Regions from separate parts of the Homo sapiens genome. Here region 2 is linked to region 1. Evidence: fine-mapped expression QTL. A gene starts in region 1. The other region holds a variant in brackets. All regions are shown on one strand. Distances are between the middles of the regions. Region 1 holds the start of RAB21 (RAB21, member RAS oncogene family). Region 2 overlaps LOC107984530 (a long non-coding RNA gene).

Region 1 (2,913 bases):
AATATTTGTTGAATGAATTAACCGACTCTCTTTTTTTTTTTTTTTTTTTTTGAGACGGAGTCTTCCTCTGTCGCCAGGCTAGAGTGCAGTGGCGCGATCTCGGCTCACTGCCACCTCTGCCTCCCGGGTTCAAGCGCTTCCCCTGCCTCAGTCTCCCGAGTAGCTGGGATTATAGGCTTGTGCCACCATGCCCAGCTAATTTTTTGTATTTTAGTAGAGATGGGGTTTCACCATGTTGGCCAGGATGGTCTCGATCTCCTGACCTTGTGATCCGCCCGCCTCGGCCTCCCAAAGTGCTGGGATTACAGGCATGAGCCACCACGCCCGGCCTCTTTTTTTTTTTTTAACCTGGTTTGAAGTGTGAAAGAAGTTTGATTTTTAAAAAAATGTTTACCTGACACCAGGTTTCCAGTAAATTTTCAGAAATATTAGTATGATTTCTTGGAGGAGTATGGTTTCTTGGAGGCAGGCCGGGCGTGGTGGCTCACACCTATAATCCCAGCACTTTGGGAGGCCGAGGCAGGTGGATCACTTGAGGTCAGAGTTCAAGACCAGCCTGGCCAACATGGTGAAACCCTGTCTCCACTAAAAATACAAAAAGTAGCGGGGCGCGGTGGTGGGCGCCTATGGTCCCAGCTTCTCGGGAGGCTGAGGCAGGAGAATCACTTGAACCAGGAGGCAGAGACTGCAGTGAGCTGAGATCACGCCACTGCACTCCAGTCTGGGCGACAGAGCGATACTCCATCTCAAAACTAACAATACAAACAAACAAAAAAGAATGGGGATGCAGATGAGAAAAAACAAGCAATCATCGAACAAGCCACCTCAAGGTGGAGTACCATGGAACGTCAGAGGCTTCATGAAAGTCAGAAAAACTGAAGAGCACTTGGGGTTAGGAATTCAAAGGTGGGCAGCTCTTATACAGACCTTGCCCTCAACAAACCTATAGTCTAATGAGAGTCGATAAACACTTAGCAAAGTATTAATAATATCCATGGAGTGTGTAAAGCCCTAGTAAAGGAGGTATACTGGTGGTAAGAAATACCTAATTTTGTGAGGTGGGGGAATGGAAGGATGGGGGAAGGATTGGGTGGTCAGGGACGCGGTTTAAGCTGAGACTTGAAAGATGATGGAGTAGTTGACCAGGCGGTCAGAGGAACTTGGAAGCGCTATGATTCGGGATCCCACAGAGAGAGATTCAAGGGCACCTTGGCAGATATGGTTTACAGTGACCTCTGGTGTGACAGATCATTAGCATTGTGAACATGCAAAAACGATGAAGTTCTGCCCTTCATTTCACCAGAGCTGGGCTCGCCTCAAATTCCTGGTTCCTTATTCCCGCTGGCTCCCACCAACTGAAAAGCAGAGGTGGCTCGCAAGCGGCGGGGCTCTGCCCTAGATTGCCAGTAGGCGCTCGACTCACATCCAGCTCCACCCCGGGAGATGCCCCAGAAGCCCCGCCCACGTCCAGGCACGTTCTTCTGGGGCTAGTCGCAGGGGCCGCCCCGGCACCGGCGCTCACGTGACCCGAGGTGTGACGTAGGAGGAAGGAGACGCCATTAGAGGGAGGCAGAGAGGGATCGTTCTTCGCTTTTCCTCCGGTGCCTGACGTGGTGGGCTGGGGCCCTTCATTCTCGGACTTTCCCTCAGCCCTTCCAGGCCTCGCCCGAGGAGGGCGTGGGGACAGCGCCCGGGTCGGCGGGGCCGGGGCGGTGGGGGCTGAGCCGGCCGTGGCTGTGAAGGCGCTGCCGCGGCTGTCGGGAGGGCGGCGCGACACTCGGGCTCGGGCGGCCGGGAAGCGACGGGATGGCTGCGGCCGGCGGCGGCGGCGGCGGGGCGGCGGCGGCGGGCCGAGCCTACTCGTTCAAGGTGGTGCTGCTGGGGGAAGGCTGCGTGGGGAAGACGTCGCTGGTGCTGCGCTACTGCGAGAACAAGTTTAACGACAAGCACATCACCACTCTGCAGGTGCGGACCTCGGGGAGCGGGAGGGGGCGCCTCAGGGCCCCTACCCCTCCGGGGCTGGGGAAACTTTGCCGCCCTGGTCCCCTGGATGTAGGCTGGCAAATCTCAGGCCTGTCATCTCCGCCTTCGGTTTACCTTTCCGAATTCGCCCTGGGGAATCACCAGGTCGGGGCAGCCTGTAGACGCGAGGACAGGCTGTTGGGAGGGAAGTGGAAGGGCCCTGAAAAGTCCCCAGTGTTCCCCGTGGTGGCTGCGCACGTTGTGGTCTCCGTCCGTGGGCTGTTTTTTCCCATTTACTGCAGTTCCTGGGTCCCAGGTGTCAGTGTTGCAGTCTCCAAATGTTAGCTCCTTTTCTTTCTTTCAGAATTAGGAACTTAGCTGCGTATTTGATTTTGCGAATTAGGTGATTTGTAACTTCAGCGCTTACTGATGACTAAGTGTTTATGCAAGTTCCATTTTGTCCTGAGTAACAGGAATGGCAAAAGAGCCATCTCTGGAGGTTTTTTGAAATGACCGCTTGCCTAGGCGTGTTACGCAGTTTCATTGCAGCCTGCGTGGGTCTGACTTGCGGGTCACTCATATTCTGCGAGGTCGATTGACCCACGCTGAAACATCAAGTGAATACTGGCCAACAATTGGTCCCCAGACTAAAAGCCGCTGCTGTTACTCAGTTTCTTTACCTGTAAAATAAAAGGTCGGCTTTCTTCCACAGGTACATTGGAAAGGTGTTAAAATGTTATCATTGATTGAGAGTGAAGCCAGGCCTTTGAGGGAGTTGTACTCACCCCACCTCTCCCAGAGAAATCAGTTTTGATGTTATTAGGAGAAATTTATCCTACTAATTTGACTTACCAATTTGGTCAAAGGCAGTAAAGTCTAGTGGACTTTTGAGCCTGATTGTCCAGGTTCATGTCTCACCTCCATCCATTTAACTAGCTGTGTCATACTGGG
Region 2 (2,913 bases), 28 kb before region 1:
GTGCGACAGTTTTGGCACCCATGAAATGGAAAGTTCGCTCAACTTTTCAGTCAGAATTGCGTAAACTGAACCAATTGAGATGTCTATGGTATTGGCTGTTGTTTGTGCTGTTATTCATCAGTCCTGTTCAGTTAAGGCACAAACATGATTAGTATTTTCCTCAAAAATTGGATGATCTTCCACCGTAGACTTCATCTTCAATATCATTTCTTCCCATCTTAAAAGAAGCTATCCATTTGTAAACTGCTGATTTCTTTGGGGCATTGTCCTCATATACTTTTTGGAAAGCATCAATGATTTCACCATTCTTCCACTCAAGCTTCCCCATAAATTTGATGTTTGTTCTTGCTTAAATTTTAGGAGAATTCATGTTGCTTTGATTGGGGCTCTTTTCAACCTGATGTTGTATCTTTCACATGTTATAACAAGTTAGTACAAGTTTGCTTCGGTGGAAACAAATTTTGGAATTTGTGCACAGTTTTTTTTTTGTAATATGCATTTTTTAATGAATCTTTTGAAGTCTTACTACCGCCAATTTTACAGCAACAAATTTGAAAGCCTTAAGCAAATGAATAATTTTTTAGTTAAATATGTTACCAAAAATTGGTACTCTGTAAAAAATTACAATCTTTACAAAAGAGATAGTGCTATGGACTAAATTGTGTCCCCTAAAAATTCATATATTGAAGCCCTAATCCCCAATATTTGGAAAAAGGGCCTATAAGGAGGGAATTAAGAGTGGGACCCTAATATGATAGGGTTGATGCCTTATAAGAAAAGGGGGCTTGACTTGGTGGCTCACGCCTGTAATCCCAGCACTTTGGGAGGCTGAGGCAGGCAGATCACAAGGTCAAGAGATCGAGACCATCCTGCCTAATATGGTGAAACCCTATCTCTACTAAAACTACTAAAATTAGCTGGGTGTGGTGATGTACCCCTGTAATCCCAGCTAACTGGGAGGCTGAGGCAGAAGAATCACTTGAACCTGAGAGGCAGAGGTTGCAGTGAGCCGAGATCACACCACTGCACTCCAGCCTGGCAACAGAGTGAGACTCCATCTCAAAAAAAAAAAGAACAAAGGAAAAAAGAAAAGGAAGAGTCATCAGAGCTCTCTCTTGCTTTCTGCCATGTGAGGACACAGTGAGAAGACAGTCATCTACACGAGAGTCCTCACCAGGAATTGAACCAACTGGCACTTTGATCTAGG[A/G]CATTCCAGTCTCCAGAACTCTGAGAAATACCTTTCTGTTGTTCAAGCCACCCAGTCTGCAGTATTTTGTTATGATAGCGCAATCAGATTTAGATGATGTTTAGATGAGACTGAACTTTAGACTTTAGAAATCATGCTGGAGTGAGTTAATACCTTTGCAGCTGTTGGAATGGACTGAACATATTCTGCATGTAATAAGGGAATGAATGTTGGGGGTTAGGGGTGGAGTGCTATGAGCTGATTTGTTTCCCCAAAATCCATATGTTGAAGCCCTAACCCCTAATGTGACTATATTTGGAGACAGGGCCTAAAAGGAGGTAATTAAGGTTAAATAAGGTAATAAGGGCAGAGACCTAATCCAATAGGACTGGTGACTTATTAAAAGAAGAGACACCAGAGCTGTCTCTCTCTACTATGTGAGGACACAGTGAAAAGGTGGCCATCTATAAGCCAGGGCTCAGGTGATCCTGCCACCTCAGCCTGCTGGGTAGCTGGGACTACAGGTACCTGTCACCATGCCTGGCTAAATTATTATTTTGGAGACAGAGTCTCACTGTCACCCAGGCTGGAGTGCAGTGACATGGTCACAGCTTACTGCAACCTTGACCTCCCAGGCTCAAGCCATCCTCCCACCTCAGCCTCCTGAGTAGCTGGGACTACAGGTGCACACCACCACCCCTAGCTAACTTTTAATTTTTTTGCAGAGACATGGTCTCCCTATATTGCACATAATGGTCTTGAACTCCTGGGCTCAAGCAATCCTCCCACCTCAGCCTCCTGAGTAGCTGGGACTACAGGTGCACACCACCACCCCTAGCTAACTTTTAATTTTTTTGTAGAGACATGGTCTCCCTATATTGCACATAATGGTCTTGAACTCCTGGGCTCAAGCAATCCTCCCACCTTGGCCTCCCAAAGTACTGGGATTATAGGCATGAGCCACCATGCCCAGTATGAAGATGATAAAATAAAATCTACCACTTGAAAAAGGCTCTGGTACCAGAGCCTTTGACAACTTTTAAAGAACAGATAATTGCTTTTTTTTAAGGTATTACTTAGATTGTAACACTTCCCAATTTATTTTAGGATGTCAGAATAAATTGAAAATCCATTTTCTAAATAAAAGTAAAAACTGTAGTCTGGTATTAAAAAAAAATTCAAGCAAGATTTGTTTCAGGAATGCAATAATGTTTGAACATCAGGAAATCTACCAACATAATCCGTTACTATAACAATTTAAAGAGAGAAAAATATACAGTGAGATCAACAAATGCCAAAATATTTATTTGACTAAATTACTAGCCATCCGTATTAAGCCATTCTTGCATTGCTATAAAGAAATATCTGAGACTGGTAAATTTATAAGAAAACAGGTTTAATTGGCTCACAGTGCTGCAGACTGTACAGGACACATAGTGCAGGCATCTGCTTCTGGGGAGGCTTCAGGAAGCTTTGACTCATGGCGGAAGGCAAAGCAGGAGCTTGCATGTCACATAGTGAAAACAGGAGCAAGAGAGGGAGTGGGTGGGGAGGTGTTACACACTCAAACAACCAGATCTCCCAAGAACTCACGATCCCCGAGGATAGCACCAAGCCATGAGGGATCTGCCCCCATGACCCAAACATTTCCCCCCAGGCCCCACCCCCAACATGGGGGATTATAACCGCCCCCAATGACCCAAACATTTCCCCCCAGGCCCCACCTC

What was found. PIP is the estimated chance that this variant, and not a neighbour inherited with it, causes the effect.
Region 2: its variant is the best candidate, but not a certain one, in a credible set for the expression of RAB21 in nasal epithelium (TOPMed, PIP 0.73).

Annotation. Positions count from the first base shown.
Region 1 is chr12:71,753,324-71,756,236 of GRCh38, forward strand. RAB21 (RAB21, member RAS oncogene family) reads left to right here and starts at 1,540. Exons shown (of 7, transcript NM_014999.4): 1 at 1,540-1,965. The coding sequence starts at 1,807. RefSeq lists enhancers at 1,312-1,601, 2,242-2,431 and a silencer at 1,582-1,861.
Region 2 is chr12:71,725,475-71,728,387 of GRCh38, forward strand. All of the region lies in intron 2 of LOC107984530 (a long non-coding RNA gene), which reads left to right. Among named protein-coding and RNA genes, the nearest start is that of RAB21, 28 kb to the right of the region's middle. RefSeq lists an enhancer at 1-993. The variant A/G (reference allele first, on the strand shown) is at 1,208.